Homo sapiens: one gene and its partners. The protein of the gene in region 7 purifies or fractionates together with the protein of the main gene of each other region. This does not show direct contact. Each region holds a gene or a part of one and is shown on either strand. Other genes may lie near its edges. The genes, in order: OSBPL11, GTF2A1, PAPOLA, TMEM231, DDI2, NUP50 and NIBAN2.

Region 1 (4,110 bases), on a different chromosome or scaffold from region 7:
GCCATGAGGCAATTCTCAGTAACCTGCCCACCTCCTCCCCAAAAAATTCAACTCGCAGACTGTATACTCAAAATCGCAAACAAAATAAAGTCTAACTGTATTTTAATCTATGACAAAAAGTATAAAGTCAAGAGAGGGGTCCTCCCTCCTGCCAAGAGTCTTAAAAATGTTAGCACTCTTTGGCCCTAGAATTTCACTTTTAGGTATCCCATCTATGACAAATGATTAGAAATGTAGACAAAGCCGGGTGCGGTGGCTCACGCCTGTAATCCCAGTACTTTAAGAGGCCTAGGCAGGCAGATCGCCTGAGGTCAGGAGTTCGAAATCAGCCTGGCCAACATGGTGGAACCCCGTCTCTACCAAAAATATAAGAATTAGCCGGGTGGCACCTGCCTGTACCCAGCTACTCGGGAGACTGAGGCACAAGAATCGCTTGAACCCAGGAGGCAGAGGTTGTGGTGAGCCAAGATTGCACCATTGTGCTCTAGCCTGGGCAACAAGAGTGAAACTCCATCTCAAAAAAAAAAAAAAAAAACAAAACAGAAAAGATATGTAGTGCAAAAATGTAAGGAAACTAAGAAATCACAGCACATTATTAATAAACCAACTCTTGCTCCTCAAGACTTGGTATATTTTTAACTAGATTTTGGAATAATATTTTATAGTTTCCAGTTACATGCCTACAATTATCTTTCTCTTGTTTTTACCAGCATCTATAGCAGATGTCAGATACAGAAAACAAAAACTAGAGTGTAGAAATATGTATCAATTTTCCTTTAACCCCTGCAGAGGAAAAAAAAAAAAAAAGCAGACATTTATGACTTTTTCTTCAAATCAACTCAGAAGAAGAGGTAAAACCTCTAAGACCATGAACATTCATTTATATTTAGGCCAATCTCATTTTCCCATCCGCGAACAGGCACTTTTCCTTATAATAGTATTGACAGTGGAAGAAACCACAAAATTATTGTGGTCTGACCACAAAAATTATTTCTATACTACACATTTGCAGACTTTTACACATTTACTGAAAAGTATAGCTGTTTGCTAATGAGGAAAATAGATTTATCTGTTAATATGATTAGCCAGTGAGGAGCTCAAAATTTTAAAAAAAAGCAGGCCATCAAACACCCTGGTTTGTCTTTCAGTTCCTCTTTTGAATAGTTCTCTTCTGCCCATTTTAATAAGCAGGTGGCATATTTGCAGATTTGTGAATTTCTCTACAAGCTGACATGAAGAATACAAAAATAATGAAAACATGCATATTTTATAAAGTGTGAATATTCACTATGAAAAAGGAAGGAAAGACCCAGAACTGGGAAATCTATCTTCTCTGTAAATGGTAAAGAAAGCTCACATCATATGAATATAAATTACTCTGGAAACAAGAAAATACAAGGCTAATCTAATAAATTAAGTTCTTAAGTTTAATTTTTCAAAAGGGCCAGGCACGGTGGCTCACGCCTGTAATCCTAGTACTTCAGGAGGCCGAAGTGGGTGGATCACTTGAGGTCAGGAGTTTGAGACCAGCCTGGCCAACATGGTGAAACCTCATCTCTACTAAAAATACAAAAATCAGCCGGGTGTGGTGGCAAGTGCCTGTGGTCCCAGCTACTTGGGAAGCTGAGGCAGGAGAATCGCTTGGACTTGAACCTGGGAGGCAGAGGTTGCAGTGAGCTAAGATCTGCCACCGCACTCCAGCCTGCACAAGAGGACCAGACTCTGTCTCAAAAAAAAAATTTTTTTTTTCAAAAGGTCATCATGAGATTGTTTTGTAAATGCCACTGATGCCCTTCCTTTTCCTGATTATTTTGATGATCCTCCTAAAATAAGCCTTAGAATTCATTCTTTCGTTGTTTTGGGTGTGCACATTAATTTGGCATTAATAAAAGAGTGCTTCAGACATAGTAGAGACTCAAAAATATTTGCTACATAAGTTAGAACATGAGTAAACCATAAAACCAACCATGTACCAAACTAGTTATTATCAATAATTATTCATTCCTTTTAGAGAGTTTATCTACTTTTAATACCTCTATGTAAATATCTATCTAGAAATAAAAGTTCTCCCACTTACTAGCTATGTAACCTTAGCTACATGCAATATATAACTTCATGTACTATATTGCCTAAGTCTATATTGTCATTTAGACTTAGGTTTTCTTCAACTGCAAAACAGGAATAATAATGCTGTATCTTCCTCCAGAGTTGGGAGGATTAAATGTGATAACAGATGTGAAAACATTCTGGATAATGTAAAGACAATTATCTACATTTCCAATACTCCATATCTCTGAGGACTGGCTAGATAAGACACTTAAACATTCTGGCAACTTTAGCTGGACATACCTAAAACCAGATACATAATTTGACTCCCCAAGTCCGTTTTCCCCTCTAGTCTTTACAATCTTGAGTCTATTATATTAACTGCCTAGGCATTTTCTGGCATAAATCCCAATAATCCCCACCTGCTGGTATTCTCACACCCTTGTGTGGGACTTGTTTCTGAAGAACAGTGAAAAGTGATGTGAATTCACCTCAGTGCTTAGGTTACAAAAGACTGTTAACTTCTCTCCAGGTAGCACTCTCTAGTCCTCTTACCTCCTCATTCTCAAGAAACAAGCTGCCAAGTTGTAAGATGCTCTGTGAAGAAGCCCATGTGGCCAGTGAACAAAGGAGGTCTCTGGCCATCAGTTCATGAGGAACTGAGTTTTTTGTCCAATGGGCCAAAAGGAACTGAATTGCACCAAGAGTCTCATGAATCAGCTAGGAAATGAATCCTTCCCAGTTCAGTCTTAAGAAAGACTCAGAGCCAGAAGACCCAGCTAAGCTGCACTGAGATTCCTGACCCAAAGACACTATGAAATAATAAATGCTGCTAATATATTAAATTTGGGGGTAATTTGTAATGCAGTAGTAGATACACTATCTCACACTGTATTTCAAAATAAATTCCAGATAGATTAAAAAGTTAAATATGAGCCTGGGCAACATCGCAAGATCCTGCCTCTAGAAAAAAATTTTAAAATTAGCTGGGCATGGTGGTGTACACCTGTAGTCCCAGCTATTCCAGAAGCTGAATAGGAGGATCACTTGAGCCTAGCAGTTCAAGGCTGCAGTGAGCTATGATGGAGACACCACACTCAACCCTGGGAGACAGAGAGAGACCTTGTCTCAAAAAAAAAAGTTAAATTGTAAAACTACCAAATTATTTTAAAACTTCATGAAAACAACTATTTATTTAACTATTTTTGAGACAGGGTCTTGCTCTGTCACCCAGGCTTGAGTGCAGTGGCACAATCACAGCTCACTGGAGCCTAGAACTCAAGCAATCCTTCCACCTCAGCCTCCTGAGTAGGCATGCCACCATGCCTGGCTAATTTTTTAATTTTTTGTAGAGATGGGGTCTCTCTATGTTGCCCAGGCTAGTCTCAAACTGCTGGGCTCAAGTAATGCTCCCACCTCAGCGCCCCAAAGTGCTAAGGATCAACACTTTGGGTGAGCTACAGTGCCAGCCAAAACCAAGTACTTATAAAAGTTACTTTTTATAATTAGAAATGGATGGAAAAGAGGAATAAGAGGTCTGACTTAAAAGTTTTCTGTGTGTCAAAAAAAATGAAATTAAATCTGAGGACTAGTGAAATATTTGCAGAAAGTATAGCAAAGAATTTATACAAAATTAAAATATATTGCATGTCATCACATGTTTATTAAATAAAGAACTAATATAAATTTCTCTGGAATTATAGTCAAGAAATCAGTAAAAGATAGCATTTCCAGAGAAGGAAACCGAGTGGCTGGGAAAGTATGTAAGGGAAATGTTTCATTGTATATACTCATCCCTTTACCTATTGAAAAGAAGAAAAATCAACAAAATATTTTTAAAGGAATATTGGTATTTAATGTTGACATTTTAATAAGAGATATCAAGCATATTAAAAAGAAAAATATTAAGACCTAACAGGAAATGTATAAAAAACACATATGTAGATGTTTCACAAAAGAAAAAAAAATGATCATAAAGAAAAATGAACTAAAAATGCATCAGAAACCTAAACATAAGCACTAAAACAAAACTCCTAGACAAACACATAAGTGTAAATCTTTGTC
Region 2 (4,110 bases), on a different chromosome or scaffold from region 7:
GGTGACAGAGCGAGACTCCATCTCAAAAAAAAAATGGATCAAGCACACAAAAAATATCAAGGATACATAAAGAGCATCTGAGCAAACCTACTGACAATATAAATCTAACAGACACATACAAATACCAAACAAGTGCAGAAAACACATTCTTTTCAAAGCATATACAAAAACTGACCAAATCAAGCAAGTCTCAAGCAATTTCAAAAGATTCACACATCACACAGATCATATTCTCTACAAACAAAACAGTTAAGTCAGAAAAGAATAGAATGGGAAAAACACACTAGAGAGAATAAAGCTAAAAGTTTACTCTTTGAAAACATTAATAAAATCAACACATCCCTGGTAAGACTGAACAGGGAAAAAAAAAGATGGCACAATAATTATATTAGGAATGAAGATGACAAAGGATTCTGGCATCAAAAAGACAATATCATGATTAACTTCATGTTAATCAACTTGAAAATTTAGATAAATATATAGAGAGTCCTAGAAAAATATAACTTATCAAAACGGTCTCAAACAGAAACAAAATACTTGAAGGGCATGAGATTACTAGACCCAGGTATCTGTAGTGTCATGTTTTAACAAATATCAACAGAAGAATTAAATACAATCTTTGAAAAAAAAAAAAGAGTTCAAAATACAGGAAACATGTCCCCAAATTCATTTAACAAAGCTACCATAACTGAAAACCTTGTAAGAAGAGTATGAGAACAGAAAATCACACAGTATCTATCAATCATAAATATCTACAAAAAAGTCCTCAACAAAATGAATTCAGCAATTTATAAAAAGAGAAATATAAAATGATCAAGTTGTGCTATCCCAGGAGTACAAGATTGGTTTACAAATAGAAAATCAATTAATGAAATCCATTATAAATAACATTACGTGAGAAATTATACAAATCATTGCAGAAAAGGTGTTTAATTAAATGCAACATTCACTTACAGTTTAAAAAACAAAGCAATGCAAAGAAGGGAATTTACTTAACCTGATGAAGATATCCATTAAAAAAAAAGAAAACCCACAACAAACATTAAACTTAACAGTGAAGCATGGAAAAGATTACTTTTCAGTTTAAGAAGAAGAGAAGAGTGCCTGCTATCACCACTTCTAATCAATACTGTTCCCGAAGGCTTAGCCAATGAGCCACAAAAAACTGCCGTTCTTCATATAAGATGTGAAAGTCTACACAGAAGATACAAAAGAATCTACAGATACATTATGAGGACTAACAAAAGACATTAGGACGGTGGCTGGTTCAAGGATGAATATTAAAAGCGCTACATATTTCCATCCTACCAATAAACTGGAAAAGGTAATAAAAACATGTTACTTCAAGAAGCACTGAAACTATGAAGAATTTAGGGGGAGGAAACGGGCAAGAGACCTCAATAAGCACTTCTATACAAAACACAAATATCAAATAAATATACAAAAAGAGGCTAAAACTCCTAAGTGAGGAAATGCAAACTAAAACCAAAATGAAATAATACTATTTTCTACCTACCAGACCAGCAAAAATCAGGAAGCCTGACACTATCAGGTATTGATAAGGGGGTATGGACATCTGCACAATTATGTATTGAATGGCAGAAGTGATTTGGCATTTTATTATAAAGTTGCAGATGTGCATGACTTAGGAGCCAGAAGTTCAATGTTCGGTATAAAATTTAGAGAACCTCTTGCATTTGTGTCCCCAGAAGACATACACTACAATATTTTATAACTGTTTGTAACAGTAAACAACAAGAAACAATCCTTATGTCCACTGGATTAGAAAAATTGACAAATAAAATTATGGTATATTCAGCAATGAAAATAATTATAGCTATATGCAACAACTTGGATAAACCTCAGGAATATCATTTTAAGGGGAAAAAACCAACTTGCAGAAGAATACGTAATTACTTCATTTACGTTGTAAACATGCAAAACTAAACAATATGCTATTTAGGAATATAAATATATATGGTAAAATATAAAAGCAATTAATAATCAACACAAATGTATGAGCAAAGGTACTTTGATGGCCTAGGAATGATGGGATTAGGGAGAGGCATCTAAGGCACTTTAAATAATGGAATTTTATTTTAACTAGATGGTGGGCACCAGGATGATTTTTATCTTGAAACATTTCTATTCATTTGTGTCTATTCAATATTCAATAATAAACTATGTTTTCTTCAGAAAAAAAATTACTTAGATAATTTAGAAGAACTTTGTACTAAGAAACAAAAAGACTGCATTTTAGGCTAACGAAGGCAATTAACAGTGAAAATTGTGGTGGGACAAATAGTTTTTGGAGCCTAGTAACTAAGCTGAAATAGTGAGGAAAACAAAGGCATATTTATATGCTTCTAGAAGAACACAGACATTAAGGGTACATAGGTTTTTAAGGAAGTGGTATAGAACATGGACCAAAAGGTTTTAAATATTTAATAAATTTGTGACATTTGGTTCTTGAGTTTGCTCTCTCCCCAAATGTTGCCACGCTTTTTAAATTACTGAAGCAAAAGATTAACCACATCTATTTATCTACCAATGTCTTATGTTTAAGCCACATTATAAATGCGTAAGCCAGAGTTAGAATTACCTGTACTCTTTACTACACATATTAATACAATTTAATTTGTTATACATTTTTTATTACCAGCTATATGAAAGTTATATTTTATGAAGATAAATATAGCCAGAATATAAAAACCTTACTAAAGTTAAAACAATCTAACTTTATCTTTAAAATCTTATGTTGTACAGCACCTAACAGTCTCTGAAAAAAACAGGATATAATTTATCAGTGTTGTACCAACTAAAAAAGGAAATAATCAAGTAGATTATTTTAAGTATGTTACTAGAAACTTACTTCTTCCACCTGCCCATCTTCAGCTCCATCTTTCTCTTTGTCTTCCTCCTCATCATCATCATAGTCTTCTTCTTCATCTTCATCTTCTTCAGATGATGTATCCCCAGTTCCATCAACTTGTAAGACCAATGGAGCTTGTGTTTGAGCAGGCTGGGCCTGCGGTTGCTGCTGGCCAGTTGCAGTTATCTGTGCTTGGGCTGGTGTAGGTGCTGCCACTGTCGTAGGTATAACTTGAGTCTTATTTCCTGTAAATAAGATTTGCTGAGGCTGGATGATGACACCTGTCTGTGGTGAAATCCCTCCAGGAAGAGGAGCCAGCACCTAAAGCAAAAGAAAACCACATAACAGTAACTAGTTAAGAGGATCAAGTATGGTACACAGAAATAGAAACAAATGCTTAAGATTCACCAGAATGGCCATATTTCATACACAGTTAAAAACTACCAAAGTACAAAAGCAATTAGTTTAACTAGTGTAGTGACCCATTAAATTTCTATTTTATCAAATTTCTAGAAAATAAGGATTTTCTAAAGATAACTGCTTCATTTATTGAGCACATACTATGTATATGCCAGCTACCAGGACAAAAGTTATACACTGCCTTCACATGAAGAACACTGGACTGAGAATCTGAAAACCTGGGTCTACCTTTTTTTTTTTTTTTTATAGATGGAGTCTCGTTCTGTCACCCAGGCTGGAGTGCAATGGTGTGATCTCGGCTCACTGCAACCCCTGCCTCCTGGGTTCAAGCAATTCTCCCACCTCAGCCTCCTGAGTAGCTGGGACTACAGGTGCGCGCCACCATGCCCGGCTAATTTTGTTATTTTTAGCAGAGACGGGGTTTTGCCATGTTGGTCAGGCTGGTCTCGAACTCACGACCTCATGATCCGCCCGCCTCCCAAAGTGCTGGGATTACAGGCGTGAGCCACAACGCCTGGCCAACCTGGGTCTACTTTTGTCTAAAGTCAGACATAAATACAGCAGACGCAAGTCATTTAACTCCTCTTGGCCTCTGTCGTTTCACTGTCAAACTAGGCTTAATGGTTCTCAATCCTGGCTGCAAATATGAACCACCTGGCAACTTAAAAAGTACTGATACCTTGGCCATACCCCTAATATTCTGACTCAGTGTGAGATAAAAGCTAATTATTTTTCTAAAAACCACCAGATCAGATTTCTGAAGTTCCTTTCCAGGTTCTGCATCTAGGATTCTAAAGTAAGCCACAACTTGAAAAAAT
Region 3 (4,110 bases), on a different chromosome or scaffold from region 7:
ACTCTTACTATTAAACTAAGAAAGAAGGCTTGACTAAGTTTACTGGACCAGAATATGAACCCAGATAGCTGATATCATAGCCTATAATAATCATCTCTATACTGAGGCACCTCTGCACATCATTTACAATATGTAGTCATATAGATAAAGATATATATTTTTTTAATTTTAGAGATGGTGTCTTGCTCTGTTGCCCAGGCTGATCTAAACTCTTGAGCTCAGGCGATCCTCCCTTATAGCTCAGATTACAGGCATGGACCATGACACCCAGTTTTTTTTTTAACTATTTGTATATTATGTCCATAACACATTCATAGAAACACAATCAAGCAGAATTGAGACCGTAAAATTTTACCTTATATTTTATAAACTTGTTTCAACATGTTAAATTATTTAAAGTAAATATTAATAATCTTGCAAAAGTTGAAAGTCAACTAATTCTACCGTTCACCATTAAATTAGAATAGTTATAGCAAGGAGGCTAAAATAACCCCCTATAATGGCAGCAAGGGGCACCAAACAAATCTTCAAATTAAAACAATAATTAGCTTTTGGTTATTAGCTAAAAACTCAGTTTATGCTAATTAAAACACTATTTTGTGAAATAAACAAAGATTTTTAAAATAGCTTTTTAGTGCAATACTCTGTGGCTAGAAATAGTAAATCCAAAGCAAATATTGCTTTATTTATTGCTCCAGGAAGCTGCTAGGGCGGCCAAGTTATTAAACATCAACTCAATTTTCCTAAAAGCACTTTTTTCTCATCTACCTTTTGTCAGAAAGTACAGTATTTATGAGGTTGAAATGTACCAAATTCCTAAATATGCATAAAAGACAATGCTAAATAAAATCAGAAATACAAAGATGCTTAAGGTAGTCTCTGTTTTCAATGACAATCTCAAATTTAGTCTGGGATTCAGATCCTTAAACAACAAGTGCAAAGTAGAAGTTTGGGAAAAAAACCATTAAAGAAACAAAGATAAAATCATGACTATGCCAGAAGGTGTACACAGTAAATGATCGGAAAGGAGAGGCGTAATCTAGGCAGACGACTAACACACAAAAGGACAGAACATCATATTTCCATTGGTGTTTTCCTTAAATAGTTAATGTTTAAGTACTTTGCATCTCAATTTAATTTTTTTTAATAGAGTCAGGATCTCACTATGTTGCCCAGGCTGGTGTCGAACGCCTGGGCTCAAGCAATCCTCCCACCTTGACCTCCCAAAGTGCTGGGATTACGGGCATGAGCCACCACAGCCCGCCTGTGTCTCAATTTATACAAAACTCATCAGGCACTACTGATTAATCCCCACCTAGTGATATTAGGCATTTGGAACAAGTTGTGGCCCATGATATTAACAGAGTCAACTGCCCCAATTTATAGCTACTACTTAACAGAAAACACTTTATTATTTGCATGATAGAGTTAAAACTGAAAGCCAAACTTGCTAAATATTCTTCTTTGAAACCAATCAGATAAACTACAGTTAACTTATTTAAAGTAACAATTCATCACAGTAGAATTTGCTGTTTAAAGGTCTTAACCTTAATGTGCTCATTCAAAGGACATGAACAGAAAAGATACAAGGGATCTCTCTAAAGTATCTCAATGTGCATTAAATATTAATTATTAGCCAAAATAATACAATCTCCTTTTTCACAAGGTATACGGCATGATAGTAGCTTACAGGCAAGATTATCGCCAAAATAATCTATTTGCTAAGAAATTAAAACGATGGTTAACTGGCCCACCGTAAGGTGTTCTGTGTAAGTGGTACTAAAAATATTTAGATCCCACTATATTCTTAAAAACGTACTGCAGGTGGGCCATCCAGCCAATATTTAGTAAAGCAGCAGCAGAGGCTCAAAGATGATGTTAATAGTTTGTTTATGCTCAAGGGGAATAAAGTATGTATGATAAAGCCCAAGGCCAAACTGAAAATTCAAGGTTGCTTATGCAGAGAAAGGGTACTTGCTGTTCAATTACTACAATGGCCAAGTTATTTTTCCTCACTTCCAAAGGGTACTTCCAACTGCCCCTTTGCGCACAAGCGCACGCGCGCGTGTGTGTTGTGTCCCTCTCTCTCATATGGCTAGGAGAAACTTAAAAAAAAAAAAAAAAGCCAAATTGTACACTGCTACATCAACTTGCCAAGTACAACTTGAAAATGAAAGAAATGTAAATTTAATAAAGTATGAAACAGGACCTGAAAAAGTACGAAAGAGTGTGAAAATGTATCAGAAAATAGTCAAGATTATAGTAAGTCATAGTATTACAGACACTAATTTCAGGAAATGTAATTTAAATGTTTCTAATGATCAAAATGACAAACACTATTCTTGATCAACCTCAAAATTATAAAAACTGCCGTAAAATCCAAGAATCCAATTTCTGGACAAAATATAGAGGGAATAAAAATTTGAAAAATAATTCTGTAACAAAAGAGGAAGAAAGAAATCTAACAGAATGCCTTTATTTTTTCTTTCCCAAATCCTTAGGTTTCCACAAATGAGATTGCTATACAGTTCAGCAGGCCTACATACAATCCAAAGATTAAAAAAAAAAAAAAAAAAAAGCAACTCCCACAAAAGGTACTGGCCACAACAAAGCGGCGTCTAAGTGGCAAATCTGTGCATGGCTTTAAATAAGAATATATATGCAAATAAAGCCACTGAAAGTAGTCGTGTGCCACGTTAACAGAATTCTTCAGTCAATGACAGACCACACATATAACAGTGGTCCCATAACAGCATAATACCGTATTTTTACTATTCCTTTTGTGTTTACATACATTTAGATACACAAATGCTTCCTAATGTGTTACAAGTGCCTACAGTATTCGGTACAGTAACATGCTGCCACAGGTTTATAGCCTAGGAGCAACAGGCCATATCATTGGTGCATAGGCCTAGGTGCATAGCAGGCTATACCATTTAGGTTTGTGTTAAGTACACTGTTCCCACAATAAAATCTGAAAAATAACACATTTTTACAGAATATATCCAATCATTAAGCAATGCACAAGATCTCAGGTTCTATAGTATGTTACATTCTGTGTATACTACAAGTATACACTATATGTTACTTTTGTTTATATACTTTTGTATACATTTTTATTATGTAAATACTTTGAGATTTACATGTTATACACACAAAAAAAATTGAGCTTGAAAATTAATTCTACTTGAAACTATACAGAGATTCCAACTGGCCAGGCATGGTGGCATGAGCCACCTGTAATCTCGGCAATTTGGGAGGCCAAGGTGGGATTGCTTGAGCCCGGGAGTTTGAGAGCAGCCTGGGCAACGTGGCAAAACCCTGTCACAGTAAAAAATACAAAAATTGGCCACGTATGGTGGTGCGTGCCTGTAGTCCCAGATACTTGGGAGGCTGAGGTGGGAGGATCCCTTGAGCCTGGGAGGTCAAGCCTGCAGTGACCCATGATCACACCACTGCATTCCAGCCTGGGCAACAGTGAGTTCCTGTCTCAAAAATAAATAAAGACTCCAACTGAGCTAACCACACATGGTTCCCTACAGTGTCCACAGGAGATGGTATAGTGTACTGGAATGACAATGCAACACAGAATCCAGAGCTGATTTAAGCCCCAATCTACAATTTAGTACCTTTATGACCTTGGTCAGGTATTCTTTTGAGCCTCAACTTTAACCAACTTTTAGGGGAACCAATTACCTCCTATAATGTTGCTGCTTTGTAAATCATAAACTGGCATTGTCCAATTATTTAAAAGCTGCTAGGTAATTAGAACCCTGAACATACAGAATAAAAGAGACACACACACCCTCCCAAAATGAGAACTAGCTAAGAAGCCAAATGGTCTCATTTTACCTGAAAGAAGCTAGCTTTATAAACTTGCCTAGATAAAACTGAAGATGAAATTTAATTGTAATGTTAACCTAAAGTTGACTTAGTTACCCAAGAATAGAATGTTCTGATGAGCCAAAACATTTTCAAAGTTGTTATCAAGCCAGAACTGGCTTCTGCCTTAAGAAGGTGAGGAAAACAATCAGGGATAGGAACTGAGTAGGCTCATAAATTTACTCAACTCCAATACCTTGCCTTCCAACTTCTCTACCAAAAAATATG
Region 4 (4,110 bases), on a different chromosome or scaffold from region 7:
GCATATTTGCTCCCATCGTTGAGCATTCACGGGTTTTGACATTTTCATCACAAGGGTTCCAGTTCTGCTTGTCTCTGTTGCCCCCACTAACCTTGAAAGTCCTGAGCAGCGGCTGAATGGGCTCTACCTGTGACTCACCGTTCCTCTCCTGGTAGGCAGCAACAATATGGGTGAGGTCGTAGTCATAGGCAAAGGGGCTGGTCCCGTTGATCACGGATATCTGGGACACGGGAGGAGGATGTGGTGTGAGCACCTGGGAGACTCCTCCCCTTTTCCTTCTACCCTTCTGCCCACCCAGGCTGGTCCCACAGAGCACCCTCTTGTTCTTGGTGGCCTACTGCAGTATCAATAATCTTTTCTTCAAAGATGAATAAAACAGGCTGCTGCCCACCCAGGCTGGTCCCACAGAGCACCCTCTTGTTCTTGGTGGCCTACTGCAGTATCAATAATCTTCTCTTCAAAGATGAATAAACTCTCTTGCAACAATTTAAGCCCATTTACTCTCAGTCTTTCTTTCTGTGGATGGAAATAAGGGGTCAGTGTCCATGTTTTACAGGTTTTAAAGCTATTTTTAAAATACCCCTCTTTATCTCAGCGGGAGAAAGAATTCCTTAAATTATTTTAACAGACCGTATTTTCGCCAGGTGTGGTGGCTCATGCCTACAATCCCAGTGACTTGGGAGGCTGAGGCAGGAGGACCACTTGAGGCCATGAGTTCAAGGCCGTAGTCAATGATGATCATGCCACTCACTACACTCCAGTTTAGGAAACAGAGAAAGACTTCATCTCTCAAAAAAAAATAAAAATAAAAAAAAATAAAAAGCCAGGCATGGAAGCTCACGCCTCTAATCCCAACACTTTGGGAAGCCCAGGCAGATGGATCACTTGAGACCAGGAGTTCGAGACCAGTCTGGCCAACATGGTGAAACCCCATCTCTACTACAAAGAAAACAAAAATTAGCCAGGCGTGGTGGCATATGGCTGTAATCCCAGCTATTCAGGAGGCTGAAATCAGAGGATCTCTTAAGCCTGGGAGACAGAGGTTGCAGTGAGCCGAGATCATGCCACTCCACTGTAGCCTGGGTGACAGAGCAAGACTCTGTCTCAAAAATAAAAATAAAATACAAATAAAAACCCCTACACAAAGACAAAAAAAAGAAACCATACTTCCAACTCCTTTGTCATTTTCTTGGTCTTTTCTGGGTGCTAAGTTCTTTATCACTTTTAAATATAGAGATATAGATAAAATGCAAACCATAAGCATATAATCCCTTAAAGGAGGAAATAATTGCTTGCTGTTAATGTAATCTGATATATAGACATTCAAACAAAAAGTGCCATATTCATTTCATATGTTGCAGCTTCCTATTCTTTACAACTTATATTGATTATAGTCAGAGCAACAGTAAAACCCACTATATATCTACAAGTCTGGGTTTATGGCTGTAATAACCGATAACATCCCTTTTTCATTTTCAGAAGTACCTCAGCTCAACTTCTATGGTCCCCATTGTGATAAAATAAAAGTGAGGAATGAGTGATTAGATGCATGAGTTCTGCACACAGACAGGCTCTGTTATCTTTCAAGATTTGAGCCTTTGGGAAAATTAATCACTTTAAGCCCCAGTTACGTCTTCTGCAAAATGAGTTCATTATTTAAACAAGTATCTCTGTGAGCTTACCATCTGCCAGGCAGTGTGCTAGGCACGGATGTGATAGTATTTGAGATGCCACTGCTGTCAAGGCTGAGGGAGACAGCAAATAAACACACAAACACATATCCTGAGTAGGCCAGGCGGCAGGAGGGAGAGTCTGGCTGAGGAATGGTGGAAGGAGGGGCTGCTACTGTAGAAGCAGGTCAGAGAAGGACTGGGCTTGGGGATATCTGAACAGGGACCTGAATGGCATGGTCCGATAAGCCACATGGATGCCTGGCAGAGGAAATGGCAAAAGCAAAAGCCCTGAGGTGGCAGCTGCTTCTTGGGTTTGAGGAACAGCAAAAAGGCCAGGGGGGCTGGAAGGGAGCAAGCGGGGGCAGTGATGGGACAAGTGGCTGGAGTGCGGGGAAAGGACAATGCAGGCAGCTCAGAGGTTGCCATGATGATTAAAGGAGATGATATAGGTAAACGCCTGCACTCAGGGGTGGCATATGTTATGAGTTCAGTAAACTATGGCTAGTAATATTTCTGAAATACTTTACATGAACATTTTACATCATCATTTTACAGTGTCCTTCGGAGTACATCCTGCGTGTGACCAAGCGTGTGTATGGAAGACACAATGTGTGTGTGTGCACCCACGTGGACCTAAAAGCAATAAGCAATTTAGTTCTTCGACAAACACAGATTTTGTTTCTCTTCCCTTCTAGGTGTAACTATGCGTGTACCTTCTCTGTAGTTTGAAAAAATTCATGGCAAGAATTCTACAGAGACCCTCTTTGGTGCCACCCACAAAGAAATGATATTTCTACTTTTCTTTTCTTTTTCTTTTTTTTTTTTTTTTTTTTTTTTGAGACAGAGTCTTGCTCTGTTGCCCAGGCTGGAGTGCAGTGGCGAGATCTCAGCTCACTGTAACCTCCACCTCCTGGGTTCAAGCAATTCTCCTGCCTCAGTCTCCCAAGTAGCTAGGATTACAGGCACGCACCACACGCCTGGCTAATTTTTTGTATTTTTAGTAGAGACAGGGTTTCACCAGGTTGGCCAGACTGGTTTCAAACTCCGGACCTCAAGTGATCCATCCGCACATCTCCGCCTCCCAAAGTGCTGGGATTACAGGTATGAGCCACTGCGCCTGGCCTGACATTTCTACTTTTCATTCCCCTCTTTAAAGAACTTAATGAACAGTAACACAGAGAAACAAAGGAGCTGGACAATGAGAAGCGCTCTTACGTTGTATCGGGCATCTAGGCCACCACAGCTCAGCGGCTGCTTCTGCTGCAGCCTCAGGTCTCCGTTCACGTATAACTGGGATCCCGGGACAGGAAAGGAGGACTGGAGAAACGCCATGCTCTGCATCACGAGGGTCGCCATCCTCTGAAATCATTAGAAGGACCAACAATACCAACCGCCATCAGATCTGAAGGGCTCTGGGTGCTAAGAGTCACCTGTCTTGGCTGAAACCTAAGAGGCCCTCACATACCTAGCGTAGCCATGCAGGAAACACTGCCTAGAACCTTCTGAGCTATTAATAGCCCATGTCAGTTAATATGACTAGTGAAAACCATTCCATTGGCCTAAGTTAAATCCCAAACTACATGGGGAAGAGGGCCCGCTAGAGTGCGGGTCTTCTAGAAATCAGAAGAAGGACTCTGGTCTACTAAAAAGACACAAGGGAGAGGACAGCCTCCCAGCGGACTGACTCACGTGTAATCGATAGGAGAAAGTCAGGATGAGCTGCACACCGAGAACGTGCTCCGTGGACTGCAGGGGAAGCTCCAGCTTAAAATGTAACATGTCCGTCTTCCCATCCTGGTTCCTGTCTTCTTCTCTAGTCTAGGAAACCCAAACAGGCCCAGCAGCCCTGGTCACTAATGAGTCTGGGAGGAATCCACATCACTTCTGTAAATACACAATGACCCACTGTCTTGCTGTACACAACAGGCATTATCTCCTCCACTAAAAGAGAAAAGCAGATAGATGTAAGTGCATTAATACTGGGGAGAGACACAAAGTGCATGGTCCCTGAACTTCATATCTGGGCCTTTCAAATGTTCACTGGCCAAAATAAATGGGCAATAACAAAAAACATCTGGATAGTATTTGTGCCTTTCAGTTGTCTCATGTGATCTTGCTTATTTTGCACTGATATTTTTTTCTTTTTTACAAATATGCCTGAATTTGTATGGAAATTTTAAGTAGCATGTCAGAATAGTCTTCTATGTCTCTAGAAGTCAACTTGTTAAAATAGAAAAACACCTAATCCTAATCATTATGCATTCCTCCAACAAACTCAAACTCAACAGAAAATCACCAAGCTCTATTTTTTTTTGTTTTTTTTTGAGCCGGGGTCTAACTCTATCGCCCAGGCTGGAGTGCAGTGACGCAATCACGGCTCACTACAACCTCCGCCTCCCAGGGTCAAGGAATTGTCCTGCCTCAGCCTCCTGAGGAG
Region 5 (4,110 bases), on a different chromosome or scaffold from region 7:
CTTGGAAAAAACACATAAACCAGAAGTGATGAGCGTCACAGGTTGAGGTGTGCAACAAGAAAAAAGAGGTATGTCAAGAGAAATGGCAGGTAGGCAGGCTCTTACAGCATAGCATCAACACTGTGAAGCCACTGTCAACAACCTACTCTTTAATTTTCCAGTTTCAGAAATTCAACTATCAGTATATTTAGAGATACATGAACAGTCTCCTGGGAGCAGAGGCACATTTTAACGGTATTTATTTATTTATTTATTTTGAGACGGAGTCTCGCTCTCGCCCAGGCTGGGGTGCAGTGGCGGGATCTCGGCTCACTGTAAGCTCCGCCTCCCAGGTTCTCCTGCTTCAGCCTCCTGAGTAGCTGGGACTACAGGCACCTGCCCCCACAAGCGGCTAATTTTTTTTTTGTATTTTTTGTAGAGACGGGGTTTCACCATGTTAGCCAGGATGGTCTCGATCTCCTAACCTTGTGATCTGCCCGCCTTGGCCTCCTAAAGTGCTGGGATTACAGACGTGAGTCACTGCGCCCGGCCACTAACTATTTATAAGAGAAAATTTATTTATTTACAAGGAGGAAGCAAACTCAGGAGAATCAAAATGATCCTATGCAGGCTGGGTGCCATGGCTCACGCCTTAATTCCAAAACTTTGGGAGGATGAGGTAGGAAGATCATTTGAGGCCAGGAATGCAAAGCCAGCCTGGGCAATACAGCAAGACCCCATCTCTAAAATAATAATAATAATAATAATAATAAGCCAGGCATGGTAGCATATGCCTGTAGTCTCAACTATTTGGGAGACTGAAGCTGGAGGATCACCTGAGCCCAGGAGTTCGAGGTTGCAGTGAGTTATGATTGTACCACTGCACTCCAGCCTGGGCAACAGAATAAGATCTTGTCTCTTAAAAAAAAAAAAAAAAAAAAAAGAAGAAGAAAACTGCAATTGGAACTGTCTAATTTCAAAGCCCATTACTCCAGGAGTATCATATACAGCTTTCCCGAACATAACCCTAAAGTGGCCTGGTGAATTAGCTGGGTGATTTTAACAAGTACTACTAAGCCATCCATTGCCACTAAGAGACTCTATCCACTAAGAGGATCAAAATACTGTCCACTGCTCAACGCATCCCCATGCCCTGGACATGAAGAAACACCACCAACTGCCCGCTCTGACTCCCACTTCACAGATGCCATACTTCACTCCATCACTGCTTAGTTGCCACAATATTTCCTCAGCAGACAATAGCATTTTTTAAAGGAAGGCAGCATGATCTAACAATAAAAATGTAAAATCTAGATAACCACCACATTGAGCATGTCTATGAAATATGAAATGTTGCTTCAGCGCCAATTTCCTGGAAACACTAGACTGAAGAACCTGGGTGAGGCGCACACGTTCCTCACACTGACGAAGCAGCAGCTGTGCTCCATTTTAATCTAAGGACATAAATGAGATCAACTAAAGCTTAGCTAAAATTGTAATTGCCACAAAGAACTGATTTCTTTTTGTTTAAATAGGCTTAAGAGTCCAAGAAAGACAATTATTTTGCAGCAAAAGTCCCAAAATAAATCCATGTGATCTTCCAACCAAACATTCAGTATCTATTAGACATGGCTTCAAATCTCTACCAATAAAAACAAAAGGGGATCCGCTGCCGGCATTCTTGATCCTTCCACCATTCATGTTACCCAACTCAACAGCTACAAAGCCCAAAATTCAAGTTTTGCCAGTTATAAGAACATACAACAAGAAAATGTATACAGCTATGAGTCTTAATCAGCAAAACTGGCACAACTGCTGGTACTTACTCCAGAGGAGGCACCCCAGAGACTGAATTATAATCTTAATCAACATTTAACAATAGACTAATTAATAAAACTTCAGAACTTTTAAGCATGAGGTCAGGTGTTTTCTGGTCTCTGAATGAGAGCCTTCTATTAACAAAAAGCTTAACAATAAATTTCTAGCATTACAGAACATAAACTAGTAGGCCAGGTGCAGTGGCTCACACATGTAATCCCAACACTCTGGGAGGCAGAGGCAGGAGAACTGCTTGAGGTTAGGAGTTCAAGCCTAGCACTGGCAAGACCTCGTCTCAAAAAAAAAAAAAAAAAGTCGCAGCTACTTGGGAGGATCCCTTGACCCCAACATGTTGAGGATACAGTGAGCTGTGATTGCAACACTGCATTCCAGCCTGGGCGAGAGCGAGATCCCATCTCTAAAATATAAAGAATAAAGATAAAATAAGGACCATAAACCGGCCACAAAACATTTGGAATTACATCTGAATGGCTTCATAATAGTATTACCATTAATCAAATACCCAATATCTACCAAGTTATCTACATATACTACCCCATGTAATAGCCAATTTGACTTGTATAATCTAAATTTACTAAAAACCTTTCAAAGACTTTATGCTTTTGATCTGGCAACTGCATATCTAAGAATTCATCCTGAGAAAACAGAAATGGAGGCTACAGTCTTAAGTATATGGATGTTCATGGCATGTTACTTACAACTGCTTCCAATTTTCCCCAATATTATGCTCAACAAAAGGGAAATTGCTAAATTACAACACATCTATATGATGGTATATTATGTAGCCTTTAAAATTATCAATTTGGGGCCGGATGCGGTGGCTCACGCCTGTAATCCCAGCACTCTGGGAGGCCAAGGCAGGCAGATCATCCGAGGTCAGGAGTTTGAGACCAGCGTGGCCAACACAGTGAAACCCCCATCTCCAAAGAAAACAAAAAAATTAGTCATATGTCGTAGCATACACCTGTAGTCCCAGCTACTTAGGAGGCTGAGGTGGAAGGATCACTTGAGCCCAGGAGGTTGAGGCTACAGTGACCTGTGAGCGCACTACTGCCTAGGTGACAGAGCAAGACCCTGTCTCAAAAAAACAAACACACAGAAGATAAAATAGTGGTTTACAAACCACAAATCATGCTGTGTGCATTTCCAAGATCATACAATTACTGCTATTATTTGCCTTTCATTTGAGGGTCCTTGTATGTTGTGCCTACTTTTTCCATATGCCACCTACAGAGGTAAATTATCATGTCTCAAAAATATGAAGACATTAATTTAAAGTGAAGCTAAGTTCTGATAACTGTTTGAAGTTCACCCAGGCAAGTCTGCATCAAAGCATCAAACAGAGCCATGACTGGCTTCCAAGCCCACACTTCTATTAAGAGACAGAACATGCCCAGCTTTAATCACATGTACAAGCAGAGATGGCTTGTTCTAAATTTGTTATCACTGCATTGTAACTACTATCATCAGACTAGAGCTGTTAAAAATTAACACCTTTTCCAACTATATGCTTATGTGCAATTGACACTCAGGTGAAAGACTGAATTCTAAACCATTGATCACCAATGTAGGGCAGCCATGCAAGACAATTCTTTAACGGTGGAGGAAGAAACTGAAAATATTAGAATTTTCATTTCCATTTATTTTAGTTCGTCCTTCCTTAAGCTCCATTTTGTGTGTGTACAATGTTACTTTACAGATAACATATTATATATGCATATAATGCACGTTATGTGTATTATATGCACATGTGGCCATATATAATGTATACAACGTATCAGTTCATGTATATAATGTATTATATACATAACAGAAGCATAATCTGAAACATTTTACTGATAGGGATACATGAATGAAAGTTTGGACACCAGTGGTGTGGACACATAGTGGCAGGAAAAAATAGCCAGAACATAAAAATATATATATTTCCTTGAAGAAATGGAATCAGAAATGAGAGGTGAAGGAATGGGAATGGAGAATGTAAACAAGAGGAGGAGTTAAACAGTCTAGGAAAGGAAGGGAAGATGAGTAATATGAGAGAACCCTGGGAGGTAATGGGGGGGGACACTCAAGTAAGTAAACATGATATATTTATGGGTAAAAACTATAGTGATGTTTACTATTATGATTTGATGAAAGGAAATGACTCAAGTGTCTAGGGTGGATCCTGTTCCTGCCTGATGGGCAAGCAAGCAAGTGAAAGACAACCGACCACCAGACACCTTAAAATAGATACTGTGTTGTCAGGTTACAATGGAGCCAACAGAACAGACTGGAAAAACAGGAGCTGTT
Region 6 (4,110 bases), on a different chromosome or scaffold from region 7:
TAGTATCCTGGGGATTGGTTTCAGCACCCCCTTGGATGTTCAAGTCCCATAGTCAGACCAGCATAACTCTTAGATAGGAAAAGTGAGTGTTCGTATCCACTGGTTTCTCATCCCCAGAGTACTGCATTGAGACAGGGTCTCGCTCTGTCACCTAGGCTGGAGTGTATTGGTGTGGTCTTGGCTCACTGCAGCCACAACCTCCCGAGCTCAAGTGATCCTCCCCCATCAGCCTCCCCAGTAGCTGGGATTATAGGTACACACCACCACACTCAGCTAATTTTTACATTTTTTGTAGAGATGGGGTTTTGCCATGTTGCCCAGGCTGGTCTCAAACTCCTGAGCTCAAGCGATTTGCCCACCTCAGCCTCCCAAAGTGTTGGGATTACATGCGTGAGCCACCACACCTGGCTGAGGACTGCATTTCACAGGTGTAGAACCTGCAGGTACAGAGGGGCGACTGTACTTTAATACTGTTCATCCCAACAACCTTGGGGATTAAGTGTTAATGCTGACCTGCTGTTCTAACAGTGCTGTTTGAAATAGGCATCCTTTTGTCTACTGCCACACCACCCTCGACGCGCCCGATCACATCTCAGATAGGCGTCCTTTTGAAGGAAAAGATTATTTTTAAAATGTGTAGAGCAAGCATATGGTGGTTAGTGTTCTTGTATAAACTTTGACTTGATCTTTATTCATCGGCTTTACTGATAACTGGTTACTAAATTCTACTCCTTGAACACATACTTTTTGAGCGGTCACAAAAATAGGGCACAGTAGGTCGGGCGCAGTGGCTCACGCTTGTAATCCCAGCACTTTGGGAGTCCGAGGCGGGCAGATCATGAGGTCAGGAGTTCAAGACCAGCCTGGCCAACATGACGAAACCCCATCTCTACTAAAATACAAAAATTAGCCGGGTGTGGTGGCGGGTGCCCGTAATCCCACCTACTCGGGAGGTTGAGGCAGGAGAATCGCTTGAACCTGGGAGGCAGAGGTTGCAGTGAGCCAAGATCGTGCCACGGCACTCCAGCCTGGGTGACAGAGCAAGACTGTCTTGGTGTGGGGGGAGATACAGTAAAAGCAGAAAGTATGAAGGCAGAGTGGCAAAAAAATCTAGATGATTTAATCAAATTAGGCTAAATAAATGGTTCAATTATTAACTTTCTATAGGTTCTCTTGCTGCAAATGGCCCTACCACCTTGGTTGATAAAGTTTCAAATCCCAAAACTAATGGGGACAGTCAGCAGCCCTCCTCCTCTGGCCTTGCTTCCAGTAAAGCTTGTGTCGGAAATGCCTATCACAAGCAGTTGGCCGCCTTGAACTGCTCCGTGCGGGATTGGATAGTGAAGCACGTGAATACAAACCCCCTCTGTGATCTGACACCTATCTTTAAAGACTATGAGAAATATTTAGCAAACATTGAACAGCAACACGGGAACAGTGGCAGGAATTCTGAAAGTGAATCTAACAAAGTGGCAGCTGAAACACAGTCTCCTTCCCTTTTTGGCTCAACAAAATTACAGCAAGAGTCAACGTTTTTGTTTCATGGCAACAAAACTGAAGATACACCTGACAAGAAGATGGAGGTGGCATCTGAAAAGAAAACGGACCCATCATCACTAGGAGCGACAAGTGCCTCATTTAATTTCGGCAAGAAAGTTGATAGCTCTGTTTTGGGCTCATTAAGCTCTGTCCCCCTGACTGGATTTTCTTTCTCCCCTGGAAACTCCAGTTTATTTGGCAAAGATACTACCCAGAGTAAACCAGTCTCTTCACCATTTCCCACTAAACCATTGGAGGGCCAAGCAGAAGGTGACAGTGGTGAATGCAAAGGTAAGTACCAGCTTTGTCGTTGAGTCGAGGTTTGCATAAGATTCTTGTTTCTTGGGAAACCCAGAGACTTTGATTCCAAATATGAGTCTGGATTCACATTGAGACGTTGTTCTCTCCATGTGTGATCTCAGACAGAGCTAATCAGCTTCTCTGAGTTTCAGATTCCTGCTTTATAAAAGAGTAAGACTTTTGTAGGGTTGTTTATAAGGATTAAAAATAAAATGAATTTGAAAACACCTGACTTTGAAAAGTCTCAAACACACATGGTTTAGCATATAAAAAACAAGTGAATTAAAGACGTTTTTTGAAAATTGTGTTTTTGGAAAAGTTCATCAAGTTCATCATGAATGTCCCCTGAATTGATTTGTACTTAGGAGATCTCACTGTAAATAAAGTCATGTGGCAAAACAGTACTTGACTATACATTACAAATGTAGACTTTTCATAGCCATAGAGAAGAAATCAACATTGTTTTCCTCCTGTGGGTTTGGAGGCGCCTCCTTTCCAGAGCGTGGCAGTGGTGTCTAAGTGATGTTTCCTGTGTGTATCGTCAGTGCCCCAGACAAGGCACAAGGTCTGGGCCCTCCAGACCTCTGTTGTTAGCTTAAAAAGTGGGGTGATGTCATGATGCTGCTTCCTCACATGGTGGTTGTGAACAGGTGATGTCTGTGAAGACACCTACTTCTAAGCAGTTGAAAGTGAGGCCAGGTGAGGTGGCCCACACCTGTAATCCCAGCACTTCGGGAGGCCAAAGTGGAAGGCTCACCTGAGGCCAGGAGTTTGAGACCAGCCTGGGCAACATAGCAAGACCCCATCTCTACAAAAATTTTTAAAAATTAGCCAGGCCAGGTGGTGGGCGCCTGTAGTCACAGCTACTCTAGAGGCTGAGGTGGGAGTATCTCGAGCTCAGAAGTTCAAGGTTGCCATGAGCCGTGGTTGCATCACTGCACTCCAGCCTGGGCAGCACAGACCTTGCCTCAACAAAAGAAAAAGTGTACTTCTCAGACATATGGACATACTGATCCTTGAGGAAGAAAACTGCATTTGCCAATTTGCCTCTGAAATATTACGGTTTTCTATCAGGAGTCTAGACTTCCATTACTGTTTTGCCTTGCCCTGCTTTCAAGTATATCCTCAGGCACGGGCCCTCTGGGCACAGGGTGAAATAAGGGTCTCCCCTTTTCTTTCTTCTCTGCCTCCCATAAATAAAACAAATGGGGAGTCTTTCCTGAGGCAGGCACTGGGGATTTGAATCGAGTCCCAGTGGAGGCAGGATGCCCCTCAGTGAGCGCCTGTTCCTTGTCCCTTGGTTATCACAGTTTAAGCATCAGAAGACTCGGGAGATTGGAGGGATAAGACGGACAGTCGTGTGACCTAATCATCTGAGCATCACAGTTGTTTTTCTTAGAATTGCTTTTTGGTGAGTTTTTATGCAACTGCCGTTCTCTTTAAGAGGATCCTTTTATATATGTGGGGTTTTTTATTTTTTTGAGACAGGGTCTCGTTCTGTCACCCAGGCTAGTAGTGCAGTGACGCAATCATAGCTCACTACAGCCTCTACCTCCTGGGGTGAAGCAATCCTCCCACTTCAGTCTGCCAAGTAGCTGGGTCCACAGGCACGTACCGCCACACCTGGTTAACTTTTTTATTTTTTGTAGAGATGGGGGGCGTCTCACCATGTTGACCAGACTGGTGTTGAACTCCTGGGCTCAAGCGATCTTCCTGCCTTGGCCCTGCAGCGTGCTGGGATTACAGGCGTGAGCCACTGTACACAGCCTAATACATGTGTTTAAATGATGGCCTAGGTCTCCCGTGTTTGGGAGACCCCGTTAGTGGGGATACCTTTGGTACCAGAGCAGTGACCCATGTGGCAATTCAGACAAAGCTTAAATTACTTACACTGGGGCTTTGGAATGATTTTTCTGACAACTTGTCCCCTGTTAAAAAAAAAAAAAGTATTTTTCTATCTTTGGCTATTACTGATACTTGTAGATGTAGTCACAGGAATATTCAGGGGTGAAGGTGTTAAAAACTCATCCGAGATGGAATTTTCCAGTGGGTAATTTGCATATAGAGTGTTGATTTTTTTTTTCTGTCATAAGCATGGAGATTTTTCCATTTTAAGGTTTTCTATATATTGGAAGTTATTTTAGAATTAAGAGGTATGTTCCCATTAAAAGGGATTCTTATTTTTCACAAAATAGTTAAAATCCTGCAGGTACTCCCTTCTGGCATCCCCCCCCCCCCCCATTAAGTGTGCATTTTAGTCTGTCAGTTTAC
Region 7 (4,010 bases):
CCCACTTCGGTTCACAACTAGGGAAACTGAGACCCAGGGAGAGGAAGTGGCCTACCCAAGGATCCTCAGGCCTCCCAGATCCCAGGCCAGGGATTCTTCCTCACGGCACACTGCCTCGTGTAAGGAGGCAGGAGTCATCCTGCCACCAGCCCCGTGGGGCTCCTGGTGTGGAAACAAGCCTCTGCTTGCCAGGGGCTTTGAAATCCCAGGATGAAAGGTGCCGTGGCAGCAAAACAGCACCGTGGCCGGGAGCACGCTTGACCTTTGCCAGGACTTGCAGGCAGGCTGGCATTCACCTGCTCACCTGCTTGGGGCGGGCACAAAGCTGCAGGTCAAACCTTGGAACCCTAACAGGCCTGGGAACTCAGAGCACTGTGGGAAGGGATGTCTCTAACTCTGACATTTCTACTGGGGCAGAGAACAAGGCCTCAGGTAGGGAGGGTTCTGGAATTTTAATTGCCAGCTTTGAGAGTACCTACTGCTCCTTGGGTGGGGTGAGGAGGGTGCCTGGATCACTGGAGGAGGCAAATACACGCCCTCATTCCCTTCCAGCAGAGATTTCAAAGGCAGCTCACTTCCTCTGGGGAGACTGGGAGGCTTCCCCGCTGCCCCCTTCCAACACCCCACCCCCCCACATCAGGAACTCCCCTCAGGTGAGTCTGGACCAGGAATTCGAGGCATTTAAAGAGGATTATAAATAGCACTGAAGTGTGGAGAAGAGAGAGACCAGCAGGCTCTGAGTGGGCACAACTTTCTTCCACCCAGCCTGGTATCCAGAAAATAAATCCAACCCTCTCCAGTAAAGGACACTTCACCTTCTGTGGTCTCAGTCCCCTCCCCTGTAACATGCCAGGGGAGAGAGGGTGGGCTGGCAATTCTCAGCCCAGGAGACGGGAAGACAGGGAGGCCCAGCACTGAGTATGGGGAGAGGAAAAACCCCACCGAATGCAAGGCACACCCCACCCAGGCCCCTCGAGGGGCCTCAACAGGAGGTCCTGAATGGAGGGACTGTTACAGAGCCCCAGGAGCTTGCTGCGACAGGGAGGGGACAGGAAGACTCCGCCCTGGCCCTTCCTCCTCCCACAGTCCAGGCCTGGTCGGATAAGGAGGCTTTCCAGGACTTAACCCCACGCTGGTCAGAGGCTAGAGAGGGTCCGATTCATTTTCACATCACCCCAGTCACCCCTGTGCCCAGCCAGCCCCAGGCCTGGCACAAGGGAGGGACTCTGGCCTTGGGACTTGGCCCGGGACCACAGTCACTTGGCAGATCTCCCCAGCACCTCCCTGGTGCCCAGCATGGGTGCGGCCCTGGAGACATGGAGTTAAAGGACACCTGGCCACTGCTCTCAGGGCTTCCTGCTCTCAAGGGAGCGTGGAGAACACGGTGGTGAAATTCTACAGGACACAAAAATAAGTGCAGGCGGACGCGGTGCTCAGGGCCCACTAGACAGCGAGGGGCGACCCACCTGAACCGTCACCCCACATACAAGTGCCTCTCCTATGCCAGGCTCTGTGCTAAGCAAGCCACATGAGTTACTTCACGTAAGCCTCCCAACAACTCATTAATAAGGAAGAAATCACTGACCCCATTTCAAAAAGGAGAAAACCAAGGTGTACAGGACAGATGTCTGGGAAGCAAATGCTGGGATTCCACCCAGGGCAGCTCCACCAGCCAGGAGAGATCGGCCAGAGAGGAGTTTCTCAGGCAGCCGAGATCCTCATCCTATCTCACTGTTCTCCAGAGTCTGTGGGGAAAAGGAACCCAGGCCCCCTCTGCAGCTCCGGCTTCCCCAGGAGCCTTGGGGACAGCTGTCCCTGGGAGAAGTGGCCACTGTGCAGTAATAGGCTGAGAGTAGGGTTGGCTGAAGAACAGGGTTGAAGGGGCTGGCGACTGGCCCTGAGGGCCCCCCACTCTGGTGACCGGTCCCTGGGCCCCTGCTGCTAGCAGGGGCAGCCTGCTGTCTGCGCCAAAGGACATGCAACCCCACCGCCTCCGGGGCGCCCCATCGATCCCTGGCCCCACTCCCCAGAATCAGTCCCGGGCCTTCATGGGCGCGTCCTTCAGGAAGCCTCCGCCACGTGTACCAGGGCTGGGGCCCGGCGGAGCTGGGGACGGGACGGCTGGGGAGGAAGGTGAGCGCGAGCTGGCTGGGTCTGGGAGATCCCAAAGCTGGTAGCGGATGGGCTTGCAACGCTTCTGGGCGGGGACAGCCAAGGGTGGGCAGCAGGCTGCGACCCCTGCCCCAGCTCGGCCAGGGGTCGTGGGCTGGGGGTCCGCCAAGCCCGGGCTCCGAAGGGGTTCCGGGAGAGAAGGAGTTCCGAGTCCCCTTGAGCCGGGAAAGGTGGCGCTCAGAAGAGCGCGGGAAGGGGCGCCCAGGCTCAGAGGGAACGAGCTCGGACGCGGGGCACGCTCCCTGGCAGCTCCCACCGGCCCGGCCTGACTCCCCCGAGCCCCCGGCCCCGGCGCCAACTGCTGGCCGGGGCGGGGGCGTGGTCCGGGGGTTCCGGCAGGCCCCTGGGCGCGCGTGGCGCGGCGCGACCCTCACCTGCGATGTGCTGGCGCCGGGCGTCGTCCAGGTGCGTGGACAGCACGTCCCCCATGGCCAGGAGGTGTCGCGGCCCGATCCGGCCGACGCCGCCGCTGTTGCCCGCGCTGCTCAGGCGGACGCCGCTGGCGCCATGGAGCCCGGCCCGCCCTGCTTCCCCCGCTCCCGCCGCTCCCGCCGCTCCCGCCGCCCGGCTGCGGCTTCCGCTCCGGCTCCGCTCCCGGTCGGGCCCCGTCCCTCCAGCCGGCCGCCTTGGCCCCCTCCCTGCCCTCGGCCCTGCACCCCGGCGCCCCGCTCCGCCCCACCAGACCACGCCCCCGCAGGCCAACCCCGCCCCCTCCCCGCCCGCTGCCCTGCGCCCGCCGCGTCCCACCCCGCCCCGCCCCGCCCCGCCCTCGGTCCTGCACCCCCCTGCGCCCCACCCAGCCCCTCCAGGGCCCGCCCCGTATGCCCCGCCCCCTCCGCTGCCTCCGGCGGGCGGGGCACAGGGGCGGTGGACGCCGGGACCGCCCTGGAGAAGGAGACAAAGAGAAGGTCCCAGAAAGGGAGACCGCGGAGAGACTGCGAAGAGCGCACCCGCCCTGTACCTAAGCAGAGAAAGAGACGGGGCTGGTGGGGACATCTGAAAAACTGGGGGTGCTCTGGGGGACTCCAGCCTGAGTGTCACCCCCCTCCCCTCCCCAACCTTGCCCGCGCGGGAAAAGAATCGCGCCGAGGAGGATGTGGGGCACTGGCAGGGGACGCCTGGACCTACGGGCCGGAATTCGGCGTTCGCCCCCTCCTCTACCCTGAACAGTGCCCCCTGCCCCCCCAAGTCCCGCCCGCCACTGCCCGCGCTCAGGAAGTTCCCTGGCCTTGATTCGACCTGCCCCAGAAGGTGTGCCCGCTGGTCTTGCACAACAGCTATAGGAAGGGGGTGGGGAAGGCTCGGGCCCGAAGGCACCCCCGCCCCAGTGCCAGGCGGGCTTGCCTCAGGCTCAGCATATGGGCATTTCACTCGGGAGGCGGCTTGGGGGACAGAGCAAATCAGAAAAGGAAAAAGCAGTAGCACTTTACAGTTTGCAAAAGACTACCAGAATCAAAACCCGGAGACCGACAGGCACCAGCCTATGGGGCTGGGCATGGGTGGGTCGCAGTGCCAGGGGAATGTGTTTCAGTTTCAGGACCTCCCAAGCTGGCAGGGGAGACAGTCAGGTTAACCAGTGGGATCCCCAGATCTCAATCCTTTGGCTGCTGGTGCTCAGATCTCCTGATCTGCACTGGGACAAGGCCATCCACTTTCTGCTTGTTGACCCCTGGTAACTAAGCACTCACCACTTCTCTCATGCATTTCACGTTGTTATTGGGCAGCTCTTAGTGTGACTGTGGCATAAGGCAGGAAGTGATGATGATAACAGTTAAATTTGCTGAGCACCTGTACTTCAGGCCTGTGCACACCACAGGAGGTAGGTTTGAAATGGATTA

The links.
Region 1: the proteins of NIBAN2 (region 7) and OSBPL11 purify together in Homo sapiens (co-immunoprecipitation; one large-scale study listed by IntAct). This does not show direct contact.
Region 2: the proteins of NIBAN2 (region 7) and GTF2A1 fractionate together in Homo sapiens (co-fractionation; one large-scale study listed by BioGRID). This does not show direct contact.
Region 3: the proteins of NIBAN2 (region 7) and PAPOLA fractionate together in Homo sapiens (co-fractionation; one large-scale study listed by BioGRID). This does not show direct contact.
Region 4: the proteins of NIBAN2 (region 7) and TMEM231 purify together in Homo sapiens (co-immunoprecipitation; one large-scale study listed by IntAct). This does not show direct contact.
Region 5: the proteins of NIBAN2 (region 7) and DDI2 fractionate together in Homo sapiens (co-fractionation; one large-scale study listed by BioGRID). This does not show direct contact.
Region 6: the proteins of NIBAN2 (region 7) and NUP50 fractionate together in Homo sapiens (co-fractionation; one large-scale study listed by BioGRID). This does not show direct contact.

What each region holds. Positions count from the first base shown.
Region 1 is NC_000003.12:125,588,826-125,592,935, forward strand, and holds part of OSBPL11 (oxysterol-binding protein-related protein 11), read right to left. Parts: intron 1-4,110. UniProt on the Homo sapiens protein: Plays a role in regulating ADIPOQ and FABP4 levels in differentiating adipocytes and is also involved in regulation of adipocyte triglyceride storage. Weakly binds 25-hydroxycholesterol. Interacts with OSBPL9 to function as lipid transfer proteins.
Region 2 is NC_000014.9:81,189,647-81,193,756, forward strand, and holds part of GTF2A1 (transcription initiation factor IIA subunit 1), read right to left. Parts: intron 3,194-4,110; coding exon 2,873-3,193; intron 1-2,872. UniProt on the Homo sapiens protein: TFIIA is a component of the transcription machinery of RNA polymerase II and plays an important role in transcriptional activation. TFIIA in a complex with TBP mediates transcriptional activity.
Region 3 is NC_000014.9:96,508,434-96,512,543, reverse strand, and holds part of PAPOLA (poly(A) polymerase alpha), read right to left. Parts: intron 1-4,110. UniProt on the Homo sapiens protein: Polymerase that creates the 3'-poly(A) tail of mRNA's. Also required for the endoribonucleolytic cleavage reaction at some polyadenylation sites.
Region 4 is NC_000016.10:75,542,464-75,546,573, forward strand, and holds part of TMEM231 (transmembrane protein 231), read right to left. Parts: intron 3,615-4,110; exon of another isoform or gene 3,492-3,614; coding exon 3,363-3,491; intron 3,033-3,362; coding exon 2,889-3,032; intron 221-2,888; coding exon 139-220; intron 1-138. UniProt on the Homo sapiens protein: Transmembrane component of the tectonic-like complex, a complex localized at the transition zone of primary cilia and acting as a barrier that prevents diffusion of transmembrane proteins between the cilia and plasma membranes.
Region 5 is NC_000001.11:15,620,200-15,624,309, reverse strand, and holds part of DDI2 (protein DDI1 homolog 2), read right to left. Parts: intron 1-4,110. UniProt on the Homo sapiens protein: Aspartic protease that mediates the cleavage of NFE2L1/NRF1 at 'Leu-104', thereby promoting release of NFE2L1/NRF1 from the endoplasmic reticulum membrane.
Region 6 is NC_000022.11:45,177,071-45,181,180, forward strand, and holds part of NUP50 (nuclear pore complex protein Nup50), read left to right. Parts: intron 1-1,167; coding exon 1,168-1,830; intron 1,831-4,110. UniProt on the Homo sapiens protein: Component of the nuclear pore complex that has a direct role in nuclear protein import. Actively displaces NLSs from importin-alpha, and facilitates disassembly of the importin-alpha:beta-cargo complex and importin recycling.
Region 7 is NC_000009.12:127,566,274-127,570,283, forward strand, and holds the start of NIBAN2 (protein Niban 2), read right to left. Parts: upstream 2,801-4,010; 5' UTR 2,602-2,800; coding exon 2,547-2,601; intron 1-2,546. UniProt on the Homo sapiens protein: May play a role in apoptosis suppression. May promote melanoma cell invasion in vitro.